4 linked regions of the Homo sapiens genome follow. The protein of the gene in region 4 interacts with the protein of the main gene of each other region in a biochemical or structural test. Each region holds a gene or a part of one and is shown on either strand. Other genes may lie near its edges. The genes, in order: MIF4GD, CDK6, CUL4A and SLBP.

What was found.
Region 1: the proteins of SLBP (region 4) and MIF4GD interact in a biophysical measurement, tested with the Homo sapiens proteins (one study listed by IntAct).
Region 2: of the proteins of SLBP (region 4) and CDK6, one has a biochemical effect on the other in vitro, tested with the Homo sapiens proteins (one large-scale study listed by BioGRID and IntAct).
Region 3: the proteins of SLBP (region 4) and CUL4A form a complex in vitro, tested with the Homo sapiens proteins (one study listed by BioGRID).

Annotation. Positions count from the first base shown.
Region 1 is NC_000017.11:75,265,704-75,268,341, forward strand, and holds the end of MIF4GD (MIF4G domain-containing protein), read right to left. Parts: intron 2,490-2,638; coding exon 2,380-2,489; intron 2,199-2,379; coding exon 2,043-2,198; intron 1,928-2,042; coding exon 1,835-1,927; coding exon of another isoform or gene 1,748-1,834; intron 1,265-1,747; coding exon 1,037-1,264; 3' UTR 525-1,036; downstream 1-524. Other genes in the region: MRPS7 (small ribosomal subunit protein uS7m), read left to right, coding at 1-220. UniProt on the Homo sapiens protein: Functions in replication-dependent translation of histone mRNAs which differ from other eukaryotic mRNAs in that they do not end with a poly-A tail but a stem-loop. May participate in circularizing those mRNAs specifically enhancing their translation.
Region 2 is NC_000007.14:92,604,288-92,606,998, forward strand, and holds the end of CDK6 (cyclin-dependent kinase 6), read right to left. Parts: 3' UTR 634-2,711; downstream 1-633. UniProt on the Homo sapiens protein: Serine/threonine-protein kinase involved in the control of the cell cycle and differentiation; promotes G1/S transition. Phosphorylates pRB/RB1 and NPM1.
Region 3 is NC_000013.11:113,240,612-113,244,245, reverse strand, and holds part of CUL4A (cullin-4A), read right to left. Parts: intron 1,279-3,634; coding exon 1,086-1,278; intron 1-1,085. UniProt on the Homo sapiens protein: Core component of multiple cullin-RING-based E3 ubiquitin-protein ligase complexes which mediate the ubiquitination of target proteins. As a scaffold protein may contribute to catalysis through positioning of the substrate and the ubiquitin-conjugating enzyme.
Region 4 is NC_000004.12:1,695,299-1,698,932, reverse strand, and holds part of SLBP (histone RNA hairpin-binding protein), read left to right. Parts: intron 1-2,581; coding exon 2,582-2,731; intron 2,732-3,634. UniProt on the Homo sapiens protein: RNA-binding protein involved in the histone pre-mRNA processing.

The sequences.
Region 1 (2,638 bases), on a different chromosome or scaffold from region 4:
CCCTGTACCCCTACCCGACCGGCGTCGCCGCTTCCTAGCCATGAAGTGGATGATCACTGAGTGCCGGGATAAAAAGCACCAGCGGACACTGATGCCGGAGAAGCTGTCACACAAGCTGCTGGAGGCTTTCCATAACCAGGGCCCCGTGATCAAGAGGAAGCATGACTTGCACAAGATGGCAGAGGCCAACCGTGCCCTGGCCCACTACCGCTGGTGGTAGAGTCTCCAGGAGGAGCCCAGGGCCCTCTGCCGCAAGAAACAGTGTGAGCTACTGCCACGCTGAAAACTACCTGTGGGTTAAGGATGTAGTTCCTTTGTAAGGGTGGGCAGGCCTCGTAAGAAAGATGTAGCAGCATATTCACTATCCGTTAATCCTTCTTTCTTTGAGGCTGGAACTTGCTCTCTCTGCCCCTATTTCCTTGTAAAGAGGGAGCACATTGACTTGGGAATTTCCTCCAGGAAACTCAGGGCTGTTTTCTCTTCCCTTAGGTTGGGGCGGACCTTTGGATATATAAAGGAAGCAGTTTTAGTATCAGAAAAGATTTATTAGAAAATTCTCACGCTGAACTGGTGTAGCATGTGGTGCAGCATTCAGTGAAACTGGCTGGAGGAAATAGGCTTGTTTCCAGAGTTGTCCTTATACAAAATGTATAAAAAGCAGTTTCTGGTGTGACTTGTGCTCTGCCTCCACCCCTTGACATCCCAAAATATCCCACCAGTGGCTATGCTTACCCATTTTACAGATGGGTAAACTGAGGCACCAAGGTAGTAGTTGCACTAATGGTTACACAGTGCAGTGGCTCTTGGGAGTTGCCCTTCTCTGCCTGGCCGTGGTGGGTTGTGGTGGGGAAAGGGGCTCAGGGCAGGACCACGGCATAAGTGGGAAACATCTCACCAGGAGATGGGAAAGTCTAGAAGGGAAGACACTCAAAGTCTGGAAGGGAAAAGTCTTTGGGTGAGGCAGAGACTCCACTGCCAGCTTTAGAGGTGGGTAGAAGAAAGGCCAGTGCTGGTGAGGAAGCCCTGATCTGGAGGCCTAGTCGGAGACTTCGCTGTAGTAATACTTGTGGGCAGCTGGCGTTGTCTTCCAGCCGGCCGCCCGGAACTCAATGATCTCCAGCAGCAGCAGCTGGGCCAGGGAGCTGAGGCCAGTTGGGAGCAGGAAGCCATCCCGGATCAGCACAAAGAGCTCATCCATGCGCTGCCCATTCATTTTCTCCAGCTGCTCCCCAACCCGGTGCAGCTGCAGCACCAAACAGTCCACCTGCAGGCGACAGTGTGGGTAACACAAGTGAACTGGGGCAGTGCCAGCCTCTCACACAGCATTTGCCAAGTGCCAGGTGCTGTGCTTTGCCTTTACACTCATTCCCTTGCTCCCTCCTTACCATCCAGTGGGTACTTCCACATCTTACACAGAAAGAAATGAGTTCCGGGACTTGCCTGAGGTCCCTCATCTGGCCAGGCTCCACTCAAGCCTGTCTCCAAACCACTTCTTCATCCCACTCTCCTGCCTCCCACACACTGCCTGACCCTGGTTTGGCTTTGGGGCCGTCTGTACCCACAGCTAGCCATGGCTTGCACAGCTGCCATCATACGTTGGCTTTCTGACTGAGAAGGAAGCTACTGAGCCAGTAGGTTTTGGCTGCTCTCTATTGGATAAACTCCAGACCTGGCAGCTTGTCCTATAACTGACAGGCCTTAAACACCCCCACAGTCCTGCCCCAGAAGTGACACAGTCCTCAGAGACCTCCGTGAGCAGTGGGCTGACACACGGCTGAGCTGGACTGTCCATCCTGCAGCCTTCTGTGCTTGTGCCAGGGCTGGGGCCACCCACCTCCTCCTCCTTGCTCAAACTGTCTGGCTGGGCCAGCCGGAAGAGGCAGTCATAGACAGGGTTCACCAGGGCCATCATGGGCATGTTGTTCACCTGTGAGGAAGAGGAGGGGTCAGAGCACCAGGCTTAGTGGCCAAGGGGAGCAGTCCAACCTGGGCCTCAGGAAACAGGCCATGTCTGCCTCCCAGGGTGGCTGCCGGGGCCTCACCCTCAGGTAGTCAAAGATGTTGCAGATAAAGGTGACATAGCAGACCCAGCCCTGCAGGGAGCGTGCTCGCAGCTGCTCCCGAGCCTGGTACTCCTGCTGCAGCCGGTTGAGGAGTCCACGTCGGAAGACACTCTGGCCTGCTTGTTTACTCTCTGCCTGTGAGCCAGGGAGAGGAAGGTGAAGGGTGGGGGGCGGTGCCCCTGTAACCCCACCCATCCTATGCCTCTCTCTCTCTTTGAGCTAGACCCTGTGCATCTCTGTCCTGCAGGCCAGGCCTTCTGCCCACTCCTGAAGCACCTTCCTCAAAGCAGCTTCCTTTCCTCTCCCAACCCCCAACCTGAATGATGGCGTAGCACATGCGTCCTGCTTCCTTGCTGAACACACAGTCCTGCAGAGAATGGTCCACAATCACATTGGCCACTTTCTCCAAGTCCACAGCACCCGGATCTAGGGGTAGAGATAGGAGGGGAGTCTAGAGCTGCTGCTTTATCACATTTGTGTCCACCCGCTTCTAAGAATTTGAGATATTTACAGTAGAGCACTCATATGCTTGAAGTGAAAGAGATCAGAAATCATACAGAGGACAGTGGCTCCAG
Region 2 (2,711 bases), on a different chromosome or scaffold from region 4:
GGTTTGTAGCCTAGGAGGCTTAGGCTACACCATCTAGTCTAGGTGTGTATTTGTGTAAGTACACTCTATGATGTTCTCACAACGATGAAATCCCCTAACAATGCATCTCTCAGACTGTATCTCAGTCATTAAGCAACGCATGATTGTTGAATGAGTTCTTTTTTTTTTTTGAGATGGAGTCTTGCTCTGTTGCTTAGGCAGGAGTGCAGTGGCGCCATCTTAGGTCACTGCAACCTCCACTTCCCAGGTTCAAGTGATTCTCCTGCCTCAGTCTCCTGAGTAGCTGGGATTACAGGCGCGTGCCACCATGCCCGGCTAGTTTTCATGTATTTTTAGTAGACACAGGGTTTCACCACGTTGGCCAGCCTGGTCTTGAACTCCTGACCTCTGGTGATCTGCCTGCCTCGGCCTCCCAAAGTACTGGGATTAAAGGCATGAGCCACCGTGCCCGGCCAATTGTTGAATGAGTTCTAAGCTCACTTAGCTGTTATTTACTTTTTAAACACTAGAAGCCTGAAAAGGAATCTCTTAAAGTAAAACTTTAAAACACATTCTTTCTACCACATGGCCAGGTTGCAAATAAGAAGCACCAAAAAAAAAAAAAAAAAAAAAAAAAGAAAGAAAAAAAACACATTCTGCTAAAACTTGGAATTTAATGAATTTTACTCACTACAGTTATACTCATTTTACATTAAAGTAAAAAAGAAAATAGCCAGGAGAGTAATTCATCTCCAGAAAGCAGTTTAAAGTTATTGTTTTTATTATTTTTATTTGCTACCAATATTTTTATTGTAAGAAATACAAAAGGTATTACAAATATACAAACTATTTGCTCTTTTTGCCTCATTCAATTTAGCTTTCACATAAGTGAACACATTGGACAGTGATATTTCAACACCAATTTTGAAAAAAACAATGAACTTCATCATCTGACAATAAATACCTACATTTTCATTCTAGCACCCAGTAAGACATCCAGTTTCCAAAGGATTATTGGTATGCAACCCTCTGAATTTTCTGACATGTTACCTTTGCCACTGCAACAGAAACACCACTGCAGTTCTCCCTTTCCCAATAAGTCAGAGTAAGGGGCAGGTAAGAATGGCTATCTGACTTCAGAAACCCTGGGTCACAAAGCATCCCTTACTTGAGCTACTTTTAAAACCAGATTTTTAATGATAGGGTACTTAAAGTTTTGGTGGTCCTTGAATGACATATTTTACGTTACATATTTACCCTACTTTTCTATTCTCCTCCTCAGATAGGAAGGGTATAGATAAACTGGCTATATTTTCATCTGCCTCTTGGGAAAGGAGCAAGAGCATTCAGCTCAGAGCATTCTGAAGACAGTAGCCTTAGAGATAAGCTTTCTTTCTTTCTTCTTCTTTTGCTTCAAGAGGGCTTTCTGTGTGTAATGGAGGGATGGTTGCTAGAGTGAGACAGCCCTTCCCCTCTTGCTATGTCTATACCATACCTGAGGCCATTTTTCTTAGAGGGCAAAAACGTTAGAATAGGTAGGAAGGTTCTTGCTTTCAGAGAGCTGTGCTGCACCCACAGGGTGGACCCGACAGGCCACTGTGGTAACTCTCAATCTGTGTACAGAGAAAAGAGAAGCAACATCTGATACAAAGTCACCTGCCAACATTCTTATAAGACTGTGTCCCAGGCAGTGAATTTCCACACTGCTTCTTGGGTCTGCAGAACTCAAAGCACCAAAACAGAGCATTCTGTAGCAATATAAGCAAACGGAATAAGAATAATTATGCACCTTTAAGGAACATGCACCCTTATAAGTCTGTACCCTGATATGAAAATAGCAGAATGAATTTCAAGTATGAAGAAATACAGTAAAAGTGTGGCCTGTAGATGGAGAGAAAACAGCAGCCTGGAATGTGGTTTATATTCTTGATTAGTTTTTCTCTTGGTACCACAGCCAAAACTGAATGCTCTGTACAATGACTTGGTTTAAAAATCAAGATGCATACAAAGATGCTAGAGGCATTTCTAATGGGTGCCATGAGCACAGTCTGTGCCCAGCATCAGGAACCATCTCTAGATGAATGTGGCTAGGTCAAGTTGGGAGTGGTGGCCAGGCCTAGACAGGCACACCTGTGGTCCATGATGTGGAGGAAGATGGAGAGCACCATGTGGACAAGCCAGGATGGTAGCAGGGAACACTTTAGTGGTAGAAAGGAAGAGATACAGGGGACAGAGATGTAGAGGTGTGGGGATGTTGGTCATCTTGGGCTGGTTCACACAGCCTAGATGAGTATCTGATATACACAATTTCTACATTTCTAGAACCATGATTTCAAACACAGAAACTAACAAGTCAAATTTCCAAATTAGATTTTTTTTTTTTACTTTCAAAACATTTTCTATTATAAGTCAGAAGGAAAAAAGCTTACTGTATGTGACAGTCTTCCTGAAACCTAAGAGAAAGTTTTAACCAGGCCCTATGGCAATGCAGAAACACTAATACATTTTACAGTGAAAACCTACTTTAACACATCTCAAAATGATAATCGTATAAAACTTTCTAGTTCTAATTTGCACTCTACGTGAACCAATATTTTTCTTTTCTTAACACATACTGCTCTTCTATACCAAACACTTGCCCTTTAACCTTCAGATAAAAACCTCAAATACCAAAAAATGCAACAAGCTTTTGAGGTGTTGGGAATTGTTGGTTGTTAAAATCCCTTTTATTT
Region 3 (3,634 bases), on a different chromosome or scaffold from region 4:
GAGAGTAAATACTTGCCAAAATTTTAATGAAGCCAGGACTGAATGTTTAAAGCAGGTTTAAATATCTTTCTTATCTTTAAATGCAATCTCTGAATTTCAAAATAAAATGACTTCAGCAAATACATGCTCAGGTTTCAGGACGTGACTGCCCCGGACGCTGGAGTGCCTATTTCTAGGATCTGGTGTCATGAATGCAGAGGAGACATTCTCAAAGAGAAAGACTTTCTCAGAGCATCCAAGGTGGCAACGCAGGGTGAAAGCATTTCTACTCGGGCTTCCTGTTTCTGAGGCTGCACAAGCCATCGTCAGGTGGCTTGGGAGGGAGGACCAAAGTCCCCATGTGATGGGAGAACCCAAGACTTCCAGAAGCCCAAACTCCCAAGAGCTCAACATCCCTTTGCTTTAGAGAAACCACAAATGATACAGAGGAACAAAAGCCAAAGTAAACTGCCTCCTGAATTCCTTCTGTTGCTGTTTTTGTTAGTTTTTTTCTTTTAAACATTTTGTAATGGAATATTCTGAACACACAGAAAAGCAGACAATTGCACAATGAGCTCCATGTTCCATCTTACATCTTCAGCAGTAATCAACAGTCAATCTAGTATCGTCGTATTTCAGCTCTCTTTGCCCCCTTTCTCCTTCGAATTAAAAAAAAAATTTTACTGACTAGAGAAAGCCTATGAATTCTGAAATATATTTTGATATTATTGTGAAAAAATTGTACAGCTTAAAAATAGTATTATCATTTGAGATCTCATCTGGTTTTATCCTATTTTAATATGGATTAGAGGATACAAAGATGGTGATCACCCCTCCCTTCTTTGGCGAAGTCAAGCATCATTTCTTTTCTAAATTCTTACCTCATCTTCCCTTATGGAAATGCCCTCCTCCACCCATGCATGCAGGTGTGTCGGTTTTTAAATTTGTGTCCTAATAAGACTTGATAAAAACGCTTTCCACACACCCCTTGAGCAGCTTGAACATTTTGGTTGATTTTGCCTTATTTTCCCATATTAAAAAATTGTCTAGAAATGGGTGAGACTGTCTCAAAAACAAACAAACAAAAAAAACAAATATTTTTCTACCGATCAGTTCTGCAGGCTTGTTGGGTCTCTTGTTGATGAACGTCTCAAAGGACTCCTTCATCAGGTTGACGAACCGCTCATTCTTCTGGAAGCAGACCTCGATCACGTGGTCCACCTTGTCCTTGAAGTCCAACAGGTCTTGGACCATGTCTTTGTCTTTCTCAGGATTGATTACGATCGCTGTTCCAAAAGTCTACAAAAGCAAATCAATACCAACTCAGCAACATGTTTACAATAGCAAACAGTATCTTCTCCTGCTATCATATAATCAGGATAGTTTAACATAAATTACTCTTAGTAGTAAATACTCAATAACTTTAAAAGTTTCACAAATTGAATTCACATTTCAAAAATTAAGTGAATACACTTTTTTTTGAGGCAGGCCCTCACTCTGCGGCCGAGGCTGGAGTGCGGTGGTGCAATCACGGTTCACTGCAGCCTCAACCTCCCAAGCTCAAGCAATCCTCCCACCTCAGCCTCCTGAGTAGCTGGTGCTACAGGCTCAGGCCACCACATCTGGCCCATCTTTTTAAAGTTTTGTAGAGACGGGGTCATGTTGCCCAGGCTGGTCTCGAACTCCTGGCCTCAAGCAATCCTCCCACTGTGATTTCCCAAAGTGCTGGGTTTACAGGCATGAGCCCCTGTGCTTGGTGTGAATATACAATTAAATACACAATTAATGCATTGGTCTTACGATTCTGTTTCTGAGAGAACTTACAAACGACTGGAAAATGTCCGTTGCTTTTTAAAGAATGTTTATGTGTAAGTTCCTCCAAGACAAGTTAATTCCTATTAATTCAATATACCTCTTGGGACTTCTTGGCTAGTTTTCCTTCTCCATCACTTCTAACCATGAAAAGCTCACTTTTTTAGTTTGTACTTTTTTTTTTTTGTTTTGAGATGGACTCTCGCTTTGTCACCAGGCTGGAGTGCAGTGGCGTGATCTCGGCTCACTGCAACCTCCGCCTCCCATGTAGCTGGGACTACAGGTGCACACCACCACGCCCAGCTAGAGACGGGGTTTCACCATGTTGGCCAGGATGGTCTTGATCTCTTGACTTCATGATCTGCCTGCCTTGGCCTCCCAAAGTGGTGGGATTACAAGCGTGAGCCACTGTGCCTAGCCTAGTTTGTATTTTTAATTTAAAACTGTTATATTAAACATTCCTAAAAGTCTGTGTAGGGCACTAATAAACAGTTAACATTTGATGATATAAACTATATATGCCGAAGAGGAACTGAATACAATGATTGGATTTAAAAAATTCGTCTCAATAGAATGCACATGTGCACTCACACATCACACACACACGCGAGGTAGCTGGCTGGTGGAAAGATGCCAAGAGAAGGCTGGGCGCAGTGGCTCACGCTTGTAATCCCAGCACTTTGGGAGGCTAAGGCGGGTGGATCACAAGGTCTGGAGTTCCAAGACCAGCTTGGACAATATGGTGAAACCCCATCTCTACTAAAAATACAAAAATTGGCCAGGTGTGGTGGCGGGAGCCTGTAATCCCAGCTACTCAGGAGGCTGAGGCAGGGAACTGCTTGAACCCAGGAGGCAGAGGTTGCAGTGAGCTGAGATCACGCCACTACACTCCAGCCTGGATGACAGAGTGAGACTCCACCTCAAAAAAAAAAAAAAAAAAAAAGATGCCAACAGAAAGGGCACAGACTCTCCCAGAGAGGGGCGGTGTGTGGCTAGCAGGTGTGGGAGGGACTTACCTCTTACTCTACACCCTTTGGTGCTAACTGCATTTTGAAATAATGCACATACACTACAAGGCCCAGCTTTATTTTGATAACGGCATGTGGAGTTGAATATAAACTACTATTTTGTTACAGTATAACTACTTATTGCTGACACTCAGGGGTGATGGTCACTCACTGATTTTTATTACCCAGACTGGAAACTGCAAAGGTGAACTTTTCCTAGTTTTTAGCACACATTCCCATCCCCTGAAGACTGTCTCACTGGCAAAAAACCTAAATCTTCAGTAGCTTTATGGCCAATTTAGTGTGACTCAGTTATAAGTTCCAATTCTATCATTGTACGAGACCTTGTGGGGAGGGGTGCTGTGAGTGCTGGCTTTCCACAGCTGGACTGATACATGACTTCAGGTCTGATTATTCCATAAAGCAGCATGTAAGCTTTATCTTTTTTATTTAACGGAAATCTTTATTCAGATAATGACAGATTTGCATAATAGTAAAAATAGCAAAGCAATCCCAGTGTCTTTATTTCCACAGTTTCCTCCAATGGCAACGGTTTGCGAAACTACACAACAGTGTCTCAGCTGGGGTACTGACATGGCAGCGCACCCGTCTTTTTCACATGGCCCAGTTTACTCGTAACTCATCTGGGTGTGCACATCTAGACCTCGGCCGAAACCCCGACTGTTCCCGCAGAAGGCTACCTCCTGGGGCCTTTTATAACCACACACCCTGCCCCATCCCTACACCCTGGTAACTTTTCATCTATCCTCCATTTCTAAATTTTGTCATTTCCAAAATGTTATGCAATAACACGTTAAGTATCTGTGATTGGCTTT
Region 4 (3,634 bases):
CTGTAGTCCCAGCTACTTGGGAGACAGGTGGGAGAACTGCTTCAGCCCAGGAATTCAACGTTACAGTGAACCATTAATCACACCACTGCACTCCAGCCTGGGCTGCAGAGTATGAGACTTTGTCTCTTAAAAAAAAAAATTTTACTTTTGGCTGAGTGCAGTGGCTCATGCCTGTAATCCCAGCACTTTGGGAGGCCGAGGAGTGCGGATCATGAGGTCAGGAGATCGAGACCACCCTGGCTAACACGGTGGAACCCCGTCTCTACTAAAAATACAAGAAATTTGCTGGGCGTGGTGGCACACATTTGTAGTCCCAGCTACTCGGGAGGCTGAGGCAGGAGAATCACTTGAACCTGGGAGGAGGAGGTTGCAGTGAGCCGAGATTGCACCACTGCACTCCAGCCTGGGTCACAGAGCAAGACTCCATCTCAAAAAAAACAATTTTTTTTTTTTTTTTTTACTTTTTTGGAACATAGCTGGCAAAGGAATAGTAAGATTCAATGTGATGGTGCTTTTTTTTTTCCCTCCTGACCGAGTCTTGCTGTTACCTAGGCTGAAGTGCAGTGTTATATCATGTCTCACTGTGTATTCATTTTTTTGAGACGGAATCTTGCTCTGTTGCCCAGGCTGGAGTGCAGTGGCGCAATTTCAACTCCACCTCTCGGGTTCAAGCGATTCTCCTGCCTCAGCCTCCACAGGCGCCTGCCACCACACTTGGTTAATTTTCGTATTTTCAGTAGAGATGGGGTTTTACCATATTGGCCAGGCTGGTCTCGCACTGCTGATCTCGTGATCCGTCTGTCTCTGCCTCCCACAGTGCTGGGATTACAGGGGTGAGCCACCACGCCCAACCATCATGGCTCACTGTAGTCTTAACTCCTGGCCTCAAGCAATCCTCCTACCTCAACCTCCTGAGTAGCTGGGACCAGCGGTGCATGCCGCCACACCTGGCTAAACTTTTAAATTTTTATAGAGATGGGAGTCTCCCTATGTCGCCCAGGCTGGTCTTGAACTCCTGGCCTCAAGTAGTCCTCCCAAAGTACTGTGATTACAAGCGTGAGCCACTGTGCCCAGCGGATAGTGATTTTTTTGAGACCGAGTTTCACTCTAGTCCAGGCTGGAGTACAATGGTGCAATCTTGGCTCACCGCAACCTCCGCCTCCCAGGTTCAAGCGATTCTCCTGCCTCAGCCTCCCAAGTAGCTGGAATTACAGGCATGCGCCACCATGCCTGGGCTAATTTTTTTGTATTTTTAGTACAGATGGTGTTTCTCCATGTTGGTCAGGCTGGTCTCGAACTCCTGACTTTGGGTGATCTGCCTGCCTCGGCCTCCCAAAGTGCTGGGATTACAGGTGTGAGCCACCGCACCCGGCCCGGATAGTGCTTTTTAATTTTTTAATTTTTTTAAACATATTTGTTCATTTTGTAGGATCTCAGTTGATTTTTTATTTATTTATTTATTTTTGAGACGGAGTCTCCCTCTGTCACCAGGCTGGAGTGCAGTGGCACGATTTTGGCTCACTGCAACCTCCGCCTCATGGGTTCAAGTGATTCTCCTGCCTCAGCCTCCCGAGTAGCTGGGATTACAGGTGTCTACCACCACGCCTGGCTAGTTTTTTGTATTTTTAGTGGAGACAGGGTTTCACCCTGTTGGCCAGGCTGGTCTTGAACTTCTGATCTCAGGTGATCTGCCTGCCTCAGCCTCCCAAAGTGCTGGGATTACAGCGTGAACCACTGTGCCCGGCTTTTTTTTTTTTTTTTTTTTTTTTTTTTTAAGGTGGAGTCTTGCTCTGTTGACCAGACTGGAGTTGCAGTGGCATGATCTAGGCTCATTGCAACCATCGCCTCCCAGGTTCAAGCAATTCTTCTGCCTCAGCCGCTGGAGTAGCTGGGACTCAAGGCATAAGCCACCATGACTGGCTAATTTTTGGTATTTTTAGTAGAGATGAGGTTTCATCATGTTGGCCAGCCTGATCTCAGGCTCTTGAGTTCAAGTGATTTGCCACACCCAGCAGCGTTTGTTTTTTTTTTTTTTGGAGGTGAAGTCTCGCTGTGTTGCCCATGCTGGAGTGCAGTGGCACGATCTCGGCTCACTGCAAGCTCTGCCTCCCGGGTTCAGGCGATCCTCCTCCCTCAGCCCCCTAATAGCTAGGATTACAGGCACAGGCCACCACGCCCGGCTAATTTTTGCATTTTTAGTAGAGACGGGGTTTCACCATGTTGGCCAAGCTGGTCTCGAACTGCTGACCTCAGGTGATCCACCCACCTTGGCCTCCCAAAATGCTAGGATTATAGGTGTGAGCCACCGCTCCCAGCCCCTAGCTGTTTTTTTGTTCTGTTTTGTTGTTTTTTTTAAATAGAGACGAGGTCTCACTGTGTTGCCCAGGCCATTTTTAAATTCCTGAGCTTAAGTGATCTTGGCATGACCTCCCAAAATGCTAGGATTACAGGCATGAGCCACCATGCCTGGTGATCTGTAATATTTAAAATAATACTAATCTCATAGTTTGGTTAATCTTCAGGCTAATGTGGAAATGTGAGTGGCATGTGGGCATGTGCTAGAATAATCTTTCTCCTGTAGACACCTTCGACAACCTGGCATTCATCCCAAGACCCCTAATAAATTTAAGAAGTATAGTCGACGTTCATGGGACCAGCAAATCAAACTCTGGAAGGTGGCTCTGCATTTTTGGGATCCTCCAGCGGAAGAAGGATGTGATTTGCAAGAAATGTATGTCTTTATTGCATTCTTGTCCTGTGATTCTCTGATTGGTCCAGTGACTGGAGCAGCTGCGCACCACTGGGACAGGAGGTCTGGTGCCAAGTCCCCCAGCAGCTGTTGGGGAGCAGAGCAGCTGCTGCAGCTCGGTGCTGAGTTCTTCTGTACTGGGAGGGAGGCAGCTGGAAGGAAGAGTTTGCTTCCTGGATTGAATTTATTTTTTCAAGCAAAGTCAATCTGGGAATACAGTTTTTGTTTGTTGTTTTGCTGTTTTTGTTGTTGTAGTTGTTTTTCCCCTAAAAATTACAATAATCTCTGGAATTTGTTTTTTAAATATAAATATCCTAAAAAGTATTTGAGTCATTTCGGCTCAACCATGAAAATAAAAGTTCTTAATTAAGGAAGGAAGGCTTTCTTTCTCTGTTGGCTTTTTTTTTTTGGGAGATGCTCTGTCACCGAGGCTGGAGTGCAGTGGCGTGATCCCGGCTCACTGCAACCTTCACCTTCTGGGTTCAGGTGGTTCTCCTGCCTCAGCCTCCTGAGTAGCTGGGATTACAGGCACGCGCCACCACGCCCAGCTATTTTTTGTATTTTTAGTGGAGACGGGGTTTCACCATGTAATTCCTGACCTTGTGATCTACCCGCCTCAGCCTCCCAAAGTGCTGGGATTACAGGGGTGAGCCACTGCTCCCAGCCCCGTTGGCCTTTAAACTTGTGCCTAGTTGAAATGTCTCAGGCCTGAACTTTTGCTGCATCATGGCAATACCTGCTGACCAGGAAGGTAGAGAGAATGATCGTGTACCTCCCTCCCTCTATGTGGGGTTTCTTCTCAGCTCCCCTCTGGTCCTGAGCCTCTCGCTTCCTCAGACACATTCTTTAAACAAACAATTAGAGTTTCTCCTCTGTGCTGGGAAA